Linked DNA regions of Homo sapiens: region 1 is linked to region 2. A link means that fine-mapping ties the variant in region 2 to the expression of a gene that starts in the linked region. Tissue or cell type: tibial artery. Region 2 holds a variant in brackets; the other region holds the start of a gene. All regions are shown on one strand. Distances are between the middles of the regions.

Region 1 (10,341 bases), 250 kb before region 2:
AGAGATAAGGATCAATAACAATTGGTATCCCAAAAGGTTAAGAATCATACAATACTTTAAAACAAATGAGATTAGCTCCCTGGCTAGGAATTGAACTCAGGCTACAGTGGTGAAAGCACCAAATCCTAGCCATTATACCACTGGATGGGGTGTTTTCTTTGTTTTTGTTTTCATTTTTTTGTTTGTGTGTTTGTTTTTTGGTAAATTTTGCAGGGAATCCAAAGCAGGCAGTTTAAGCATTTAAGGATTTTATCTTGTCTTAGATCTGATCTCATCTGGAATGCTGCTTAGCTAATTCCCTGAATGTTAGCATTTTAAAGACATGATAAGATTTAAAGGGTACTGTCTCACAGTGGGTCAATAAATCAGTGTGTATTAGTTCATTCTCACACTGCTATAAAGAACTACCTGAGACCGGATAATTTATAAATAAAATTGGTTTAATTGACTCACAGTTCTACATGGCTGGGGAGGCCTCAGGAAACTTAAAATCAGGGTGGAAGGTGAAGGAGAAGCAAGCACCTTCTTCACAAGGCAGTAGGAGAGAGAAAGCCAGAAAGGGAACTGCCAAACACTTTTTTTTTTTTTTTTTTTTTTTTGAGACGGAGTCTCGCTCTGTCGCCCAGGCCGGACTGCGGACTGCAGTGGCGCAATCTCGGCTCACTGCAAGCTCCGCTTCCCGGGTTCACGCCATTCTCCTGCCTCAGCCTCCCGAGTAGCTGGGACTACAGGCGCCCGCCACCGCGCCCGGCTAATTTTTTGTATTTTTAGTAGAGACGGGGTTTCACCTTGTTAGCCAGGATGGTCTCGATCTCCTGACCTCATGATCCACCCGCCTCGGCCTCCCAAAGTGCTGGGATTACAGGCGTGAGCCACCGCGCCCGGCCACTGCCAAACACTTTTAAACCATCACATCTCGTAAGAACTCCCTCCCTATCATGAAAACAGCATGGGGGAAACTGCCTCCATGATCCAATCATCTCCCACCAGGCTTCTCCCCCGACACGTGGGGATTACAATTCGAGATGACATTTTGTTGGGAACACAGAGCCAGACCATATCACAGTGTCATTCACTAGACCTGGTGAGAAAAAATTTTGTTGGATCTGCATTTTTATAGTCTCAGCAGTCTTATTCCCATTCTGTTGTTGTTCTGCTTGTTCCTTCTGCTCTAAATTTAAATTCATTTCCCCTGAGAGAAGGAAATGTGTACATTGTGAAATTTTAAAACATCTCTGCCTAAGAGATGTATGGAAGCCAAGAGAAGCGGCAGAAAGGGATGAGTTCAGATCACAGGGCTGGAAGGAAAAGGAGGGTCTGGAGGTGAAAGGGAGAAAGCCTCTGAAGTCTTTTAACATAGTTTCAAATATCCCTTTGTTTACCTCTTGAATGAAGGTGACTTTTTCTTTCAGGATTTCTTTTAGAAGTTTTTAGGTGCCAGTGGAAGTCAGTCTCTTATTTACATGTCTGGTTCTAAAACCAGCTCTTTCCAATGGTGTGCACAAATAAATTACTTTAGGTATATCAAAAGATCCCCATTTTTGGTCATTGTTGCCTATGATCATTCCAGGTTAGATGGGTCTACTTTCCCAGATACTACAAGACAGTACCCCATAAATCATATATGTAGTTCCAGCAGGTATTTCTAAAAAGAGTGTTCAGGTTTTGAACACTCTTATTATTGATTTCTCATAACTCAGGAACTTTTCAAAAGTGACCAAAGCCAGGAATGTGTTTAGGATCAAAGTGTGGCATGTTTTGGACTGTCTCTAATTGTCAGATGGCAGCAGAGTCCTCAAGGATGAGGACAATTGGATTGTCTGTAATTGTCAGATGGCAGCGGAGTCCTCAAGGTATGGGGGACCAGACCCTCGTATTACGTCCACCTGGAAGAGCAAAAGGGGTACACATTTCAGTTAGGAACTAACAGGAATTAGTTAAAATTAAAGACTAATTCAGAATTTTCAAGTGATAGTAAACAACTGCTATCTCAAACACATACGATATAAAATGAAACCACTGGTGCCTAACTGCCAGTTCTTTCACTCAAACCTCTGCTGTGAGACAGAGGTGAAAAAAACTTGACCCAAACCCCTGGTTCTGAGGCAGAGGCAGAAAAACCATGACCTGCACCTCTGCTGTAAGACAGAGAGGGAAAAAAGGCAGTTCCCTGCAGAGCTCTATACCCGAATCTTCTGTCCAAAGACAGAGACCGAAGCCCTCACACTTAAAGAAAGGGTTTGAAAAACAGCCCAAATAAAGTCTAGACCTTCAACCCAAGAGTAGGAGGTCCAAATTCCGGAGAACTCATCTGAAACACCTGATGAGACTTCTGAAGGAAGAGAGTTCACACTGGTACCAAGCGCTGCTTTCAGAGAGAAACACCACCAGCTGGTTGGGGGGAGTCACTGTGAATCCTGCTGACTTACTCCAGATGTTTTACCTAAAAGGAAGAAGCGGAGGCAAAATTAATATAAGTTGGGAGTTTATTTGGGCCAAGCTTGATGACTGCAACCTGGGAACATAGATTCAGGTTGCCTTGAATATACACTCTGAGTAGCAGCAGTTACAAGTGGATTTTTAAAGGGAAAGATGAGGCAGTGCCTGAGTTATTTACCAAGAATTTACATTAAAATAAATCAAGCTACTGATTGGCTATACATTATGAAACTATAGGATGAGGGTTATAATGTCTGGTGCAGCATTAATTAGTAGGTTAATGTTTAGCTTCTGTGGCAATAGTAAGCAGTTTCAAGAGACAAATACACAGTTCAAAAGTGGGGGAGAAGGACAGGATTGCTGTTTCACTTTAATGCCTCTCTGGGCCTCATAATTTAAAAGGATTTGCATTCCTCAGATAAAGTTCTTTTCTTAACATTTAAACAAATTTTCGTCTTGGTATCATAATATAGCTGTCTGTATGTTAACATAGGAATGCTTTAAATTATTTTACCATTTATAAAATTTGTGATGCAGGAAAGCCATGCTATCCTGGGTCTTTACCTTCTGAGTAGCAATTATACCTCAGGGATACACGTTTGTAGTCTGAGAAGTGCTGGCATTTTTTTTTTCCTTTGCAACTCAGAAGTCTCTAATTAAAGTTCTCTTTTAGCATTATTCATTCACTCTTTGATAAATATTTACTGAACATCTTTATTTGCTAGACACATCAACAGGACTGAGGATACAACTGTGAACAAGATATGTATGACTCTTATCTTCATGGGAGCTATCATTTAGAGAGAAAGAAAGGGGAAAAAAGAGAAAATTAAAATATATTGTGATGTGTGCTAAGATAAAGAGGGAAACTTAGAGTGCTAAGAGAAATGTAAAAAATGTTACCTATCCTGTGTTAGCTTGCATAGGAAAAAAAAAATGAAGAAAACTGTCACCTAATCCCAGAGCAGGTGTTGAAGAAAGATTTTCGGCCAGACGCAGTGGCTCATACCTGTAATCCCAGCACTTTGGGAGGCCAGGCCGAGGCAGGAGGATCGCTTGAGCCCAGGAGTTCAAGACCAGCCTGGGCAACAGAGTGAAACCCTGTGTCTACAAAAAAATTTAAAAAGTAGCTTGGTGTGGTGATGTCTGCCTGTGGTCCCACCTACATGGGAGGCTGAGGCAGCATGATCCTTTAAACCCAGGAGGTCAAGGCTGCAGTGAGTCATGTTCATGTGACTGCACTCCATCCTGGGTGACAGAGTCAGAGTGAGATTCTGTCTCAAAAAAAAAAAACCAAAAAAATTTCCAGGACCAAACAGTCTACAGGATGAGCTGGAGTTAGCCAGGTAAAGAATGGGAAAGAATATTCCATGCCTGGCTTAGAGCAAGCTCCGGAGGCTAGAGAGAACAAGGACTCTATGGGAACAAATTCAGTGTGCTAGTTAGTGGGCAGATGTCAAAAGCGCAAAGGAGAAAAGTGGGGGGGGGGTGGTGGTGAGGAAGCTGGAGAGAAAAATCAAGGCAGGTTATGAAGGGCCTCTGTTAAACAGTTTAGAAGGGTATTGAAAGTCACCAAAAGGATTTAAGCTTAAGAAGAACTAATTAACATGTGTTTTTAAAAAAGATTGCTCAGGAACTATGTCTGGAAAAGAACAAGGACTTGACTTACATTAAGGTAAGAAGTGGAATTATAAAATCTGGGGCCCAAAGGAATTGGAGTGAGTTAATTCCTCCCCTTTAAAGTGTCTATTTTCTTCAAAGATAACCACTATATCATCTCTGGGGCTAACATTCTCTGGCCCTTTCCCACTGTCTCTGGCAGCTCCCGACCCAAGTCACTACAGTTACAGCATTCCCTTAAGGAACACATGCTTTTCCAACCTGCTGCAACACAGAAAGCACATGTAATTTTTTATTTTATTGTATTTTATTTGTTTTTCTGAGACAGAATTTCACTCTGTTGCCCAGGCTGGAGTGCAGTGGTGTGATCTTGGCTCACTGCAACCTCTGCCTCCTGGGTTCAAGTGATTCTTGTGCCTCGGCCTCCCAAGTAGCTGAGATTATAGGTGTATGTCACCACACGCAGCTAACTTTTGTATTTTTAGTAGAGACGGGGTTTCACCATGTTGGCCACGCTGGTTTCGAACTCCTGACCTCAGGTGATCCACCCACCTCAGCCTCCCAACGTGCTGGGATTACAGGTGTGAGCCACCGTGCCGGGCCTGGCCTTTCTATCTGGCTTTTTTGATTTGATATCCTAGTAGAGCCCACTATTAAAATTTCCATCTATAGAAACAGGAAGTCAGGAAAGGACTGGAGGGAATTTCGGCAGGTTAATGATTACAACGGGAAGAGAATACAATTATTGAGGTGTTTTGACTCACTTGGTCATTTCCTGAGAAACTCTTTGCTTGAATTTTTCCACTCTTCAGGTGAAGATGATGACACTGTCCAGGCTTTCAGGAGTCCAACCTCTTAGACAATAAGCGACATACTCTTTGGTAACTGCAGTGGCTAAGCCAAGGAATAAATATGCATAACTACAACAAACAGGTACTTGATGAGAACGTTATCTAGAGCTGCCAGATAATTTAGACCAAGTGCACCTTTTGTTGTAAGAAGCTGGTATGATGTCCACATAGTTTTCAGGGCTGCTGTTCCCTCTAAGAAGAAGGAATAGTCTTTTTCCTGAACTACTCTCTCTCTGAACTTTTAGGCTACAATTATGTCAGTTCAAAGTGGGCAGATTTGCCAACTGAAAAAATGATGACACGCAGCTTCCCAACTCTGTAAGGACTTTTCAGGTCTGTGGGTGAACGTCATTCCCGAGCAAACCAATGCCACAAGATTAGTAGGATGCGGCTCACAAGAAATGTTTACAATGAAGGGCATCACAGACTGCAAACCAAACAGGGTAGGAGGACACGGGACCATTTCCTTTTCCTGTCTCCATCTGACTCTGGAAGGCGGGGACAAGACATTTAAAACCAGGACCACTCCAGGAGGACAGCACATTAGCTACTGCCCTCCAGCTCCCTTCAGTGTTGTTTCCGTAAAGGACTTATAAACTGGCGAGGGCGGTGGCTTCCAAAAGCGCACAGGCGTCCCTTTTCCAACTTGGTCTTCTTATTTTCCCTTCCTGCTCCATAACTACAACGTGTTTCTGTTCGTAATCATCTCGGCTTTTCCTTACCTCTGCTTGTAAGAAAAGTCCTTTGCGCCATTCCCCTCCAAGCCCCAGGGAAGGGCCTGGAAAGCGCTTACACCTCAGACCCAGTGTCGGTCAGCCGTCAAGGAGCGAGCGACGTGGGAAACCCTGAGATAGGACATTGGCCCGGCGCTGGGCTCGGGTAACGATGCGGGGCGGGGAGCGCGGGCGGCCGGGGAGGGCGGCGGCCCCTTTAAGAGCAGGCCACGCCCCCTCCCCTCCTCCCGTTCGCTGCCAGCGGTCGGTGGCGGCCGCTACGGTGCTGACAAGATGGCGGCTGGCGGAGCTGTCGCTGCGGCGCCCGAGTGCCGGCTTCTCCCCTACGCGCTACACAAGTGGAGCTCCTTTTCCTCCACCTACCTTCCCGAGTAAGTGCCGGGCCTTGAGCTCGTGCTGCCCCACCCTTCCGCGTCAGCACGGTTGGGCCAGGGGTGCAATGGAGGGCAGCCGAGCCGAGAGGCCCAGGCGGGGCCTGCTGAGGGGGACGTGCGGCCTCCGGAGTCTTAGTTCAGCTGCTGAGAGCGTTGCTCGGCCTCGCTCGGGAAGGGGTTAGGGTCCGGAGAGCGAGCCCAGGGAGAAGGGGCGAGGTGTGTGGCGGATCCGGGGCGCGCACAGGAGAACCGGAAGCCCAGCGGTTCTGCGCTTGGGATTTGGGGGTTGAGGTTGAGGAGGGCTTGGGGGGCGGACGGCTCTGGGGCAGGAATCGGAGTTGGCGGGGCCCTGCCCGCGGGCAAACTACCCCGAATGTCTGAGGTCGTCCGAGGTGGTCGGCGTCGGGGGACAGTTCAGTCGATTGCTGCCGGGACAAAGTGTAAAGCCGAGGAGTGTCTATTCCAGAGTGGGGTCATTAAAAGTGATTAGCTCTAGAGTAGTGTTAAAAGTCACGGAAGGCTGAAAAGTTGTGGAATCCATCTGAATCCTAGCAGGCGGGGAGAACTTGTAGGATTGGCAGACGTTGTCTTTAATGCCTGGAAGTTCTGAAAAAGATAGGGAGTGGGAAGGAGGGACGTTACCGAAGAATTTCAGTATTACGGCTCATTAGAAGATGGGTTTGTATGGACACAGACACGTTTCCCAGTCCGGAAACTCAAACATAGAAACATCTGGCTTTAATGAATTTGATTTTCAACACCGGCTTTGTCTTGATCCCTGATTTAGGTGTTAAAAAAATTCAGTTGCATTGTTAGGTTTTTGTTGGTGGTGTTTTTTTCTCTAGCAAATTCCTTCTGAAATGCTGAAAATACTCTTACATAGTATCTTATTTATCTTTGGCTTATCTTTGAAAGGAGGAGCAGATCTAACTCCAATTTTACATGCTAGTGGAGGAACTGGCTTAGTAAAGGGTTAAGATCTGTGCAGATCCTGAAGAAAAGTGCTAGTTGTCCCTCTAACCATCTCACAGGACCGAAACGATTTTATGAACGAAACAAATTAATGAATAATATATTTTACTGAGTATTTTACTAAACAAAAAAGTGACTAGATCTGTGAAGCATACTCAAGTAAGTTTTCCATCTGTATTTGAGAAATTCTTCACATTTATCCAAATTTGATTTCACTGGTTATATCAATGAAGAATCTCAAAATGGAGCTGCAACTGGAAGAATCTGTCATGACTGCCAGCCTCCCATTTTATTCACCAGGTCAAGGGTTGGCATTCAGTAGGATCTGGCCCAATGAAGGGTGCCAAGTGACCTGTGGTTTGATCTGGCCTGCGTAGCCTATTCATGGCCATATCCCTGATTGATGCTGAAACCCAACTTTGAATTTGAGAGTGAGCCAGATAAACAGTCCAGCCATGTAGTTGGAGTTGAAATGTGGCCCTATGTACTTGACCTCTGATATTCTGGGCTATCTTGTTCTTGGATCTGAAGTTATTCAGCTTTTTTCTATACCCAGGCTAGGATTATGGACAGTTGGGAATTGGTGTGGCATTGTTTGATCTAACTGTAGAGACATTTTTCTGGTCTTGAATTAGCGTATTTCCAGGACGTCACTCCTTAAATTTTTGATGTAGGCCTGAGGCTTGGATAACACAAGTACCATCCGCGTTATCTGTTGTATAGACATTTTAAGAAAGTACATTTCAAGCAGGAAATGATTTAGTGGGATGGCAACTTTAATCTTTTGTGTCTTGTTACTCTGGCCCCTGGTTTGCAGTGGGCAGAACACTAGTTTTGGAGTTAGAAAGCAACAATTTGAGATTGGAGAAATACATTGCTGCAATTTTCTCAAGTACATACATAAAATAGTATTTAATACATACGTAACTTTCATACACTTCCACTTACTATATCTTGTTTAATCCTTATGACATTCTATTGACAAATGCAGTATAATTTGTATTTAAAGTAAAGTATTAGAAGAGTAATCTAAGCTTTTTTCTTTGAAGGAGTATAGTTGAGTATTATGGAGCTGGAGTTGGAGAATATTGTGTCTGCTGGGTTGGTGTGTGCCATGCCTAAATTATAAAACTCTTGGCTCTGAACTTCTATAAGCAAGCAAGGATATTACTTCTCTGTGTGACAGAAGATGTAGGAAAGGGGTTGACTTTACTTACCTTTGCCCTAAAATCCCCTCTAGCAGCAATTGTTGTATCTTTACTGGCAGTGGAAACCATATTAAGGTACTTCTTAAACAGGTCTCATTTTAGGTTAAAGACATTTGTTGAAATTGTCCACAAAGTGGCAAATATTTGTTGGCATAGATCTAAGCATTTCGAGGTGGCAGTAATAAATCAGTAACAAAAATGGTAAACATTTATGATGTGCCGTCCATTTGCTAGGCTCTCTTATGAACATTTTTAAGTGTATCAACTCATTTAATCCTTACCGCAATCCCAAGAGGAATCTCCGTTTGCCAGATGTTGGAAGCAGGTAGGGAGAAGTTTAAACTTGCCTAAGGTCACACAGCTAGATGGAACCAGAATTTGAATCAAGGTAGTCAGGCTCCACAGTCTGTGGTCTTTAACTATAGTGTTTTACTGCTTCTGCACAAAGGTATATATAGTACAGGAAATCAGAACTTTAAAAGAGCTCTTGTATTAAAGGCACTTACATTTTAGTTGTGTAAAGAAATGTGAAGTCATTAAAAAAAATTGAACAATTTTATCTCTATTTTCTTTCTAAGGACTTAGAATTCTTTTCCCCTTCTTCCAGAGGCAGAAAAAACAAATATTTCCCCTTTCAACTCTTTTTAATTTATTTGGACTTTAAAAATGTTAAAGCAGATTCAGTTATAGGGAACACATTTTTACTTTGAGACTAAAAAAAGGCCTTTTATTTTTGTGTGCTTAGAGATTGCCTGTATTTTACTTTTTTTCTGAAATTTACACCTAATTTAATAATTAAATACACTTATTTAAATAATTCATAAAATTACATATACTCTTATACATAAAAATATTTTGTAAACTGCTAATCCCTGTACTCAAATGTTTATTTTTGTATCTAATAATGATGCTAGTTACAATTTAGTGAGCACCTAATATATGCAAGATGCTTTTTGTATACAGTTTTGTTTAATTCTTGGTACATACCTGTAAGATAGGTATTTTATATATGTTTTGTGGAGGATGAAACTGAGGTCCATACAGGGTAAGTAGCTTGCCCAGGGTCATATAGTTTTCCAGAGGCTTGCCAGGTTTTCTGACTTAAAAACTATTGCATTGTGACTTTAATAACAGTCACCACTTATTGAGTACTTTCTATTCTTCAGGCACTGTACTGAGCATTTAGCATGTGTTCTTTGATATAATAGTCTTCACAAAAACCCTATGAGATAAATATTATTATTCTATTTTAGAGCTAGGAAAAGTGAGATTTAGGGAGGTAAGTTAACTTGCCCAGGTCTAAGAGTTGAAAATGTAAGAGGGGCAGGGCAGGGTGGCTCACACCTGTAATCCCTGCACTTTGGGAGGCCAAGGCAGGAGGATCACTTGTGCCCAGGAGTTTGAGACCAGCATGGGCAACACAATGAGACCCCATCTGCAATAATAATAATGATGAGGAGGAAGAAAATGTAGGTGATAAGGTTCTCATATTGGGCCTTTTGACTTCTGTTACGAAAGCTGTTCATTATTATACATGGCTATTGTATATGTCTAATTGAGATTACAGATAAGCGCTCTAAGGTTAGAACAGCAAGAGAGGGAAAAATAGATTTTATCTTGATGTTTAAGATTTTAGTATACTCATATGAGAACTGGGAGAAACTTTGAAAGTATTTTTTACATATTAGGTAATTTCATTGGTATAGAATGATTCTTATCTTGTTTACATATTATTGAATGACTTAGATAATTTAGATGATAAAATCTGATAGATTTTTAAGTGTGTTTACCTTTTTCCTGTTAGTCTTATTACTTAAAATCAAATAGTACTTAAAATAGTACCTTGTGTCAACATGTGATTGATTCATGGTTCAGAGTACAAGTGTTATGATTTGACAACTAGAATAGAAGGTGAATTTATTTCAACTCTTTTCAAAACTAATTTTAAAATTTCACATTTAAAAATGAATATAGGCTAGGCACGGTGGCTCATGCCTGTAATCCTAGCACTTTGGGAGGCTGAGGCAGGACCATCACTTGAGACCAGGAGTTTGAGACCAGCCTGGGAAACATACCCCATCTCTACAAAAGAAAAAAAATATATAAATATTTATATATTTTTATTACATAAAATATATGTGCA
Region 2 (10,341 bases):
TTGGCCAGTTATTAACATTGGTCATGGTAGTGGCCGTCTTTTTGAATGTTTATTCAAAAGACTAAACACTAGATGTTTATTACTTAATTTAATGTTCATGTTAGGGGGGAGATACTTTCGTTATATCTATTTTAGAAGAGAAGAAAGAGTTTAAACTTACCAAGTACTATGAATTGAATTTAGTCCCCAGAAAAAAAGATGTATGTTGAAGTCCTAACCCCCAGCACCTCAGAACGCAACCTACTTGGAAATAGTGTCATTGCAGATGTAGTTAAGACCAGGTCATATTGGAAGAAGGTAGACCCTTAATCCCACGCCACTGATGTTCTTATAAGAAGAGGAGAAGGGCCGGGCATGGTGGCTCATACCTGTTATCCCAGCACTTTGGGAGGCTGAGGTGGGCAGATCACCTGAGGTCAGTAGTTCGAGACCAACCTGGCCAACATGGTGAAACCCCGTCTCTACTAAAATACAAAAATTACAGGTGTGGTGGTGCACGCCTGTAATCCCAGCTACTTGGGAGGCTGAGGTGGGAGAATTGCTTGAACATGGGAGGCGGAGGTTGCAGTGAGCCGAGATCATGCCACTGCACTCTGGCCTGGGCAACAGAGGGAGACTCTGTCTCAAAAAAAAAAAGAAGAGAAGATACAGAGAGGAAAATCCCATGTGGAGACTCAGAGAGAGGCACACAGAGAGAAGATGGCCATGTGAAGATGGAGGCAGAGACTGGGGTGACGCACCTACAGCCTAGGGACGCCTAGGATCACTGGCCATCACCAGGAACCAGGAGAGAGCTCTGGAACAGATTCTCCCCCAGAGACCCAAGCCAGAATCAACATTGCCCACACCCTGCACTCAGACTTCTAGCCTCCAGAACTGTGAGACAATCAATGTCCATTGTGCTTTTTTGTTTGCTTGTTTGTTTGTTCGTTTGTTGAGACAGGGTCTCACTCTGTTGCCCAGGCTGGTGTGCAGTAATATAATCACAGCTCACTGCAGCCTTGACCTCCTGGGCTCAAGCCATCCTCCCACCTCAGCCTCTCGTGGGGCTGGGACCATTGGGTGTGTGCCACTATGCCTGGCTAATTTATTTTTATTTTTTATAGAGATAGGGTCTCCCTATGTTGCCTGGGCTGATTGCCAACTCCTGGGCTCAAGCCATCCTCCCGCCTTGGCCTCCCAAAGTGCTGGGATTGCAGGGGGCAGCCACCGCACCCGACCTTCTCATCATAATTTATATGCTCCCTGAGATCTCTCCGCCTTCCATTCCTGCTTAAATTTAAGCTCCTTGTGAGCAGAGACCGGGTCTGGCTTGTCCCCAGAATTGAGGGCCGGATCTGGGACTTTGGAACGGATCTGTGGAATGAACTTTTCATCAATGAAAGCAATGTAAAAAATGAAATGGATTCCCCAGGAGGACCTATGAGTGAAGGGTTCACCAGAGGCCCCAAAGGTGGGCATTCACGCATGGAAGGGCAATTAGACGAAAGCATCTTGAGATGTCGAGGATGACTGTTTATTTACAGTCCAGTTTAAAATGAGGCTGTGTTTCCATCGGGGCTCAGGTCTATCAAAGGGCTTCCTTTACCTGCATAGAGCCCTTTACCTGCATGGAGCTGCATGGAGAGTTCAAAAGCCTTTGGGCAGAGAATTAGCCCTAAGGAATGAGAGAGTCACACTCTCTCAGGTTCTAGAACAATAGGCCAAGGACAGAGAGAAGATTCAACTCTTGAGGCCAGAAAGTGTCTATTTCCCAGGCTATCCTGTGGCCCAGCTCCCAGAGCGAGAAGACTGAATCATAGAGGAAATAAAAACAAGATGACGAACTTGATGCCAGGCGCAGTGGTTCACGCTTGTAATCCCAGCACTTTGGGAGGCCAAGGTGGGTGGATCGCTTGAGTCCAGGAGTTCGAGACCAGCCTGGTCAACACAGGGAGACCCCATCTCTACAAAAAATTTTTTTAAAAATTAGCCATGCATGTGTAATCCCAGCACCTTGGGAGGCCGAGAAGGGTGGATCATGAGGTCAGGAGATCACGACCATCCTGGCTAACATGGTGAAACCCCGTCTCTACTAAAAAAAAATACAAAATAATTAGCTGGGCGTGGTGATGGGCACCTGTAGTCCCAGCTACTCAGGAGGCTGAGGCAGGAGAATGGTGTGAACCCAGGAGACGGAGCTTGCAGTGAGCGGAGATCGAGCCACTGCACTCCAGCCTGGGCAACTGAGCGAGACTCTGTCTCAAAAAAAAAAAAAAAATTAGCCATGCATGGTGGTGCATGTCTGTAGTCCCACCTACTGGGGAGGCTGAGATGGGAGGATCATTTCAGCCTGGGAGGGCAAGGCTGGATGACAGGAGACCCTGTCTTTAAAAAAAGGGCCAGGCACGGTGGCTCACGCCTGCAAATCCCAGCACTTTGGGAGGCCGAGGCGAGTGGATTGCCTGGGGTCAGGAGTTTGAGACCAGCCTGACCAACATAGTGAAACTCTGTCTCTACTAAAAATACAAAAATTAGCTGGGCATGGTGGCAGGTGCCTGTAATCCCAGCTACTCAGGAGGCTGAGGTGGGAGAAGTGCTTGAACCTGGGAGACAGAGGTTGCAGTGAGCCGAGGTTGTGCCACTGCACTCCAGCCTGGGTGACAGAGCAAGACTCTGTCTCAAAAAAAAAAAAAAAAGATATGCTTGAGTAACATCTCTACTGAGGAGTGAGAAGGCTTGGTGGCCTCAGTGGCCCAGGCTGTGATGGCCAGAAGCTCCATCGAGGTCAGGGTAGCCCTGCAGGCTTCCACATCAATGGCACCTAGTGGCTGCCATCACTGCAGGAGCTGGGAGGGCTGCCTTGACTGATGAGGTTGATTGTGCCCTGGTGTGGGCTTGGCCTGCCCAGAACATGCAGTGCCTTTTCCTAACTAGCACAGATAAGCCATCTGGGCCTGGAACCATGGCAGGAGGGCAGGAGGTTGTGGCCAGACTGGAGAACCATGTTCTTACATGGGACACTCCCTAGGGTTGAGGTGGGCTCTACAAGCTGGGAGAAGGGAGCCAGAGAATAGTGTCCAGTTCACAATCTTTGTGGCTGGTTTTTCTTTTTTTTTTTTTTTGAGACGGAGTCTCACTGTATCACCCAGGCTGGAGGGCAGTGACATGATTTCAGCTCACAGCAACCTCTGCCTCCTGGGTTTAAGCAATTCTCATGCCTCAGCCTCCTGAGTAGCTGGGATTACAGGCATGCGCCACCATGCCCAGCTGATTTTTGTAATTATTTTTAGTAGAGACGGGGTTTCACCATTTTGGCCAGGTTGGTCTCAAACTGCTGACCTCGAGTGATCCACCCACCTCACCCTCCCAAAGTGCTGGATTACAGGTGTGAGCCACCGCGCCCGACTGTGGCTGGTTTTTCATACCTGGACTGGTTTTGTCAGAGAAAATAGAATAATGACTGTTCCTAAGACTATTAAATTATCCTTCCTTAACTGTGAGTGTCAGAGGCTCTTCCTGACCCTTCCTGGCCTTGCTCTCAGAACACTTCACACTTCAGTGGCAAGCCAGAAGGGAAGTCCACAGAACTAGAGCTGTGAGTGCATTCTCACTGACTTGAGAGCGGACAGGTTGCTAGTCCCTTCCTGGGCCCACCACAGGAGGAGAACCAGGCTGGGTGGGTGGGTCCCTACCTTCCAGGAGCTCTAGGTCTATTTGGAGGGCAAAGCACAGAGCGTGCTCACGACCAAGGTGGATGGAATGCTTTAAAGCTCAGAGCTCCATGGAGCAGCAGAGCCTTGAAATGTCTTAGCCATCTGCATTGAGCACAGGAAGGTATTTTAGTCAGTGACTAAGTCTTCTTGTTCAGAGAGAGAGGTGTGATCTTGAAGGACACTTTTAGAGAAAAAGCTAACAATCATTGAGTGTCTCTTCTGTGACAGGCATTAAGTCACATGTAGATGTTTCATATAAATTAAGTCACTTAATACTTTTTTTTTTTTGAGATGGAGTCTCGCTTGTAACCCAGGCTGGAGTACAGTGGCATGATCTCAGTTCACTGCAACCTCTGCCTCCCAGATTCAAACAATTCTTCCTGCCTCAGCCTTCCAAGTAGCTAGGATTACAGGCACCTGCCACCATGCCTAGCTAATTTTTGTGTTTTTTTAGTAGAGATGGGGTTTTGCTGTTGGCCAGGCTGGTCTTGAACTCCTGACCTCAGGTGATCCGCCTGCCTCGACCTATCAAAGTGCTGGGATTACAGGTGTGAGCCACCGCGTCCGGCCAAAGTCACTTAATTCTTACAGCAACAATTACAACAGATAATGACACTGATGTCCAAAGAGGCGGCCCACCCTGCTCCACAGCCTAGTGGTTCCAAAGCAGAGGGTCGTGGAGAAATGAAGTAGTTGATCCTATGAGGACAAACACTGGGGATACCTTTCCATTTCTTTCTTCATTGAATTCTCAGGGCTTAACTCAGGGCCCAGAGCATAGTAAGTGCTCAATTAATATCTGTGGGATGAGTGAAAACCAAGGACAACCTGCTAGAATATTGTGGTTTATGTCGTAGGGGCATTTCCATGGGCACGGACCCACTTGATCTTCATACTGACCTTATGAAGAAGAATGAGAGCAAGTATTGTTGCTGCTGTGGCTGTATTGTCGCTGCTGCCGTTGTGTTGTTGTTGTTGTTGTTTTATGGTTGCTGTTATCATTCTCCTTTTGTAGACAAGGGAATTGACAGGCAGCGCAGAGAGTTTAAGTTTCTCCAGGGTGAGACAGTTAAGGCTGCCAGGGCTCCAGTCCAGCTCAAGTCTTCTGATCCCAAATCCCAGGTTTGTCCCAGTGTACTCTGATGGCAAAGTCAGCCAGAACCTACAGCTAATTACCTTGTTCTAATAAGGAAGTTACGGTCTTACTTCAGACGCCGAGATTGGTGCCTCCTGCCTCCTCCTCGCTTTTTCTCTCCACTCAAGGATAGCTCTGTCTTTACCTCGTAGAAGGAGGTGACCACCCCTGACTCCCCAGCAACACCATCTCCCACCATCCTGGCTTCCTTCCAGCTAAGATGGGTGGAGACACTGAGAAAATTCCTGGCCGGAAAATTCATCCTGGAAAATAGCTCAACTCTACCTGGCCTGTCATATGCGGGCAATACCATCTCAGGATGGGGTAGCGAATTAGGTGACACTAGCATGTGGAATGCTCTGTGAATTTCCAAGCCTGTGCAAATGTTAGTTATTATCTTTTTTTCTTTTCTTTTCTTTCTTTTTTTTTTTTTTTTTTTTCTGAGACAGGGTCTCACTCTGTCACCCAGGCTGGAGTGCAGTGGTGCGATCTTAGCTCACTGCAACCTCCACCTCCCGGGTTCAAGTGATTCTCCTGCCTTAGCCTCCTGAGTAGATGGGACTACAGGCTTGTGCCACCATGCCCGGATAACTTTTGTACTTTTTGGTAGAGACGGGGTTTCACCATGTTGGTCAGGCTGGCCCCAAACTCAAGGGTTCTGTCCGCCTTGGCCTTCGAAACTGCTGGGATTACAGGTGTAAATCACCACACCTGGCACAGTTATTATCATCTTTTCAGCATCACCTTCCTGAAATGCCTCTGTGTGGCCTCTAGAGACGTCTGGGGCTTCCAAATTGCCTTCTGAGAAGGAAGGATAATCTAATTACCTCATCCCTTTCCTTCCATGGGAATAATGGGCTGGGGCTCCATGTAAGAGGGGCATGGAGGCTGTGAGGAAGGGAAAGGAATGTTATGTTTTGTAGGAAGAGGACAGAGGAGCAGGGTTTTGTGAAACAAGCATGCAGGCCTAGTCTGCTTCACACTTCACACCTTTGCTCAGAAATAAACTTGGATGAGGCAGACTGATACCCTCAGTGAATTTTTTAGTAGAAAGGGAGGATATCCCATTCAACAATAATTTATTAAGTTCCTGCTGTGTTCTA[T/C]AAAGGTATAATAGAGGTATATTAGCAAGGTACAGTAGTACCTCATTGTGCTTTCGACTTTTTTTTTTTTTTAGATGGAGTCTTGCTCTGTTGCCCAGGCTAGAGTGCAGTGGTACGATCTTGGCTCACTGCAACCTCCGTCTCCCAGGTTCAAGCAATTCTCCTGTCTCAGCCTCCGGAGTAGCAGGGGTTACAGGCACACACCACTGCACCCAGCTAACTTTTGTATTCTTAGTAGATGGGGCTTTCACTGTGTTGGCCAGGCTGGTCTCGAACTCCTAACCTCAGGTGATCTGCCCACCTTGGCCTCCTAAAATGCTGGGATTACAGGCATGAGCCACCACGCTGGGTGCTTTTGGCTTTCTGACAACTTCCTTTCTCCACAATAGGGTCAAACGTTAGGAAAGGGGCCTGGCGTGGTGGCTTATACCTGTAATCCCAGCACTTTAGGAGGTCAAGGTGGGTGGATCACTTGAGGTCAGGAGTTCGAGACCAGCCTGGCCAATATGGTAAAACCTTGTCTTGACTAAAAAGACAAAAATTAGCCACGTGTCGTGGTAGGCACCTGTAATCCAAGCAACTTGGGAGGCTGAGGCAGGAGAATCACTGGAACCTGGAGGCGGAGTTTGCAGTGAGCAGAGATTGCACCACTGCACTCCAGCCTGGGTGACAGAGTAAGACTCTATCTCAAAAAAAAAAAAAAAAAAAAAGGCTAGGCGCGGTGGCTCACACCTGTAATCCCAGCACTTTGGGAGGCCGAGGCGTGCAGATCACCTGAGGTCAGGAGTTCGAGACCAGCCTGGTCAACATGACGAAACCCCGTCTCTACTAAAAATACAAAAATTAGCTGGGCATGGTGGCAAGCACCTATGATCCCAGCTACTTGGGAGGCTGAGGCGGGAGAATCGCTTGAACCTGGAAGGTGGTGGTTGCAGTGAGCCGAGATTGTGCCACTGCACTCCAGCCTGGGCAAGAGAGCGAGACTCCGTCTCAAAAAAAAAAAAAAAAACCAACAAACCAACAAACAAAAAAAAGTAAGAATTAGAAAGGAAACACAAAGTCATTGATTAGTCAGAATTATGCCTCAAGTACACACATAAATCTGTGCATTTACATGTTTACTCTTAGCTGTTCATACTTGATTTGCATATAGTTATAGCAGATCAAGAAGTCACAAACTTGAAAGAGAAAGAGTTGCTGCTGTGGATGGATCCATAAACAATGGTCTAAAATTGGCCTAGGCCGGGCGCAGTGGCTCATGCCTGTAATCCCAGCACTTTGGGAGGCCAAGTTGGGAAGATTGCTTGAGCCCGGGAGTTTGAGACCAGCCTGGGCAACACAGCAAGACCCCATCTCTACAGTATCAGTTTTTAAAAATTAGCCTAAAGTCAAGATAGGAAAGAAGGAAATCTACCAAAAATGGTCATGGGAACTCAAAAAGTCAGCTGTGAGTTAGTGTGGAGGATAAATGGCCTTGTGTAACTCAATCACTTTTGTATTGACATCACTGCATGACCACATGGTACAAAACAAATCATGGAACTGCAGAACATGTGAATTAGATGAACAGTATTGTCAGGCCAACCTCTGCAAGGTGTGTGTGTGTGCCTGTAATCCCAGCTACTTCGGAGGCTGAGACAAGAGAATTGTTTGAACCTGAGAGGCGGAGGTTGCAGTGAGCTGAGATCATGCCACTGTACTCTAGCCTGGGTGATAGAGCAAGACTCTGTCTCAAAAAGAAAAGAAACTTGCTCCAGGTTGCACAGATAGCCAGGCAGTGTGAGCGTGGGAGCCCGGATCTCAAACCTAACTGGTCGGGGCTCTCTCTACCTCTCCACCCAGGACTCAGAACTGAGACCCCAAATTTCCAAGAAAAGGGCAAATTCTGTTCTAAGTATCTTATCTGAGACAGTAGGGGTATGTGTAGTTGCCTTTGGGAAGATTTCCACCAGAAATGATGCTAACAAAGAAAAGATTGGGAGCATAAAAGGGTCCTACATGCACTGTTGCCCATAAATACATATCCCAGGTATCTAGCTGACCCCCAGGATGCCAGCAACAAAGGTTATCCTATGGTAGAAAGAAATGGCCCCTTCCTTCAAGAAGCCCACGCAACCTTGGAGGGTCAGGGCAGGTGACCTGACTCACACCCAGGCAGAGGCCAACCAGGCCATGAGAACCCAAGGGTGGGGCCACAGGGAGGCCTTCTGCCAGGACAGGCTGTGATTCCCTGAAATGTGCCAGGGGAGCGTGCGGAACATCTTGTCAGATATATAAATATCAGGCAGGCTTATTGGGTGTCTATGGCCACATACTTTTAATTCGGCAACCCTGCCCCCGGTGGTGGGCACCCTGCCAGTCTGCATTCCCACATCCTGCCGCCGGCTCCTGGCCCACCCGTTTCTATATTGAGGAGCTCCTCTCCATAAATAAAGCACAGGAGTCAGGCACCAAAGAAAGGCCATTTGGAGCGCCGGGAAGGCTGTCACATGGGCCAACAAAGGGCAGGAAGTGCCGGGTGGTGGCCCCTGTGTCCGTCCCCGGGCCCAGCTCACCTGGCTGGGCTATGGGGCCTTTGTGCAAAAACTATCAGGCCCAAGTCCTGAACTTCCTGCCATTTGTCAGGCTGTGCTGTGACCCGGGGTTCACTGAAATGCTTGCTGCTCCCAACAATGCACACACACATCCTTTGGAAAAATTCTCTCTCTCTCTCCCATCCAGGCAGCAATGGCTTTTTTTGGAAGCGGCTGCAGGGATGCAGGGCTGAGCAGTGGAAAGTTAGGTTGCATTTCCCTCCTGAAGAGGCCCCACTCAGAGAGGGAAAGGAGAGGGCAGAGCCCCAGCAGCAGGGGACTGAAGCTCAGGGCTCTCACCCCAGGAGCTGTGCCGCCATGGTGTGGGGGTGTCTGTGTCTGGGACTCATTTGCTTCCGGCTCCTGTTCACCACTCCAGATGCCCCCTCCCTCCTGGCTCCTCTGAGACTCAAGGGCTTCACTGCCCAAGAGTGGGAAGCAGTGAGTGTCACAAACACCTGCGTGCCTACAGAGTCCAGTTTCCAGGAGCACAAAATCAGGACAAATGGGCTGGGTGGGGTGGCTCACACCTGTAATCACAGCACTTTGGGAGGCTGAGGCAGGTGATCACTTGAGGTCAGCAGTTCAAAACCAGCCTGGCCAACATGGTGAAACCCTGTCTCTACTAAAAATACAAACATTAGCTGGATATAGTGGCGGATGCCTGTAATCCCAGCTACTTGGGAGGCTGCGGAAGGAGAATCGCTTGAACCCAGGAGGCGGAAGTTGCAGTGAGCCAAGATCACTCCATTGTACTCCAGCCAGCCTGGGCAACAGAGTAAGGCTCTGTCTCAAAAAAAAAAAAAAAAAAAAAAAAAAAAAAGACAAATGTTTGAGACAGAGTCTAAGGGGATGGACAGCTGGGTGTGGGGTCATCCGCTGCACTGCCTGGACTAGTCATGTCCCTGGATCCCAGTCCTGATCTGGTGAGAGGACACTCAGGATAGCTTCCCCTGCCAATAACCAAAGCAAGAGATCAAATGACTACTCCACTCACTTGAGCTGTGCTCAGCCCTGGTGAGGGGCTGTCGACAGTGGCTCCCAAATGCTGGGATGGACATTGATAAAGTGGTCACCTGTCCCCTGGGAACTGAAAAAGAAAAGACATGTAATGAATCTTCCATCTTGCTAAATGTATTCCATGGAAAAGACTGTCCTCTTTTTCTGAGATTTTCTGAAACAAAGAAAAAGAAAAATATGTTGAATTTTTCTATACTGCTAAGCTTATTCAGTTTCAAAAGTTGTTTATTCCACTTTTGAAATTGAATAAATAAAGTTGTGTATTCAACTTTTGAAATTGAATAAGCTTAGCAGTATAGCGTTATTTCAAAAGTTTATTCTAGGATTATGTTCTTTCTCCTTTCTTAGTGTTAAAATGTGACTTTGTTTATGACAACACAGTAATTTAAAAAATGTGTTTGTTTGGGCCGGGTGCGGTGGCTCATGCCTGTAATCCCAGCAATTTGGGAGGCCGAGGCGGGCGGGTCACCTGAGGTAGGGAGTTCGAGACCAGCCTGACCAACATGGAGAAACCCCGTCTCTACTAAAAATACAAAATTAGCTGGGGGTGGTGGCACATGCCTGTAATCCCAGCTACTTGGGAGGCTGAGGCAGGAGAATCGCTTGAGCCCAGGAGGCAGAGATTGTGGTGAGCCGAGATCACACCATTGCACTCCAGCCTGGGCAACAAGAGTGAAACTCTGTCTCAAAAAAAAAAAAAAAAAAAAAAGGAAAAAAATGTGTTTGTTTGATAAAATAAAAAGTTGACAACCCTGTGCTAGTCTTCCAAATGAAAAATCGAGAGCCTGTGGTTTGTGAAGTTCCCAAGTGGAGGA

Direction of the effects. Positions count from the first base shown, and alleles are read on the strand shown. Sizes are in standard deviations (SD) of each study's normalised expression.
For the expression in tibial artery of the gene that starts at base 5,894 in region 1, allele C in region 2 goes with a higher level than allele T (moderate effect, 0.43 SD a copy in GTEx).

The links. PIP is the estimated chance that this variant, and not a neighbour inherited with it, causes the effect.
Region 1: MKLN1 starts here. The variant in region 2 is fine-mapped to the expression of MKLN1 in tibial artery (GTEx, PIP 0.98).

The regions. Positions count from the first base shown.
Region 1 is chr7:131,321,983-131,332,323 of GRCh38, forward strand. It overlaps MKLN1 (muskelin 1), which reads left to right and starts at 5,894. Exons shown (of 18, transcript NM_013255.5): 1 at 5,894-6,015. The coding sequence starts at 5,918. MKLN1-AS (MKLN1 antisense RNA) reads right to left here and starts at 5,797. Exons shown (of 6, transcript NR_125364.1): 1 at 5,633-5,797; 2 at 4,824-4,953; 3 at 2,321-2,443; 4 at 1,383-1,886. RefSeq lists enhancers at 5,659-6,235, 5,930-6,229, 6,236-6,812 and a silencer at 5,720-5,879.
Region 2 is chr7:131,573,152-131,583,492 of GRCh38, forward strand. No RefSeq gene overlaps it. Among named protein-coding and RNA genes, the nearest start is that of PODXL, 22 kb to the left of the region's middle. RefSeq lists an enhancer at 8,558-9,162. The variant T/C (reference allele first, on the strand shown) is at 5,934.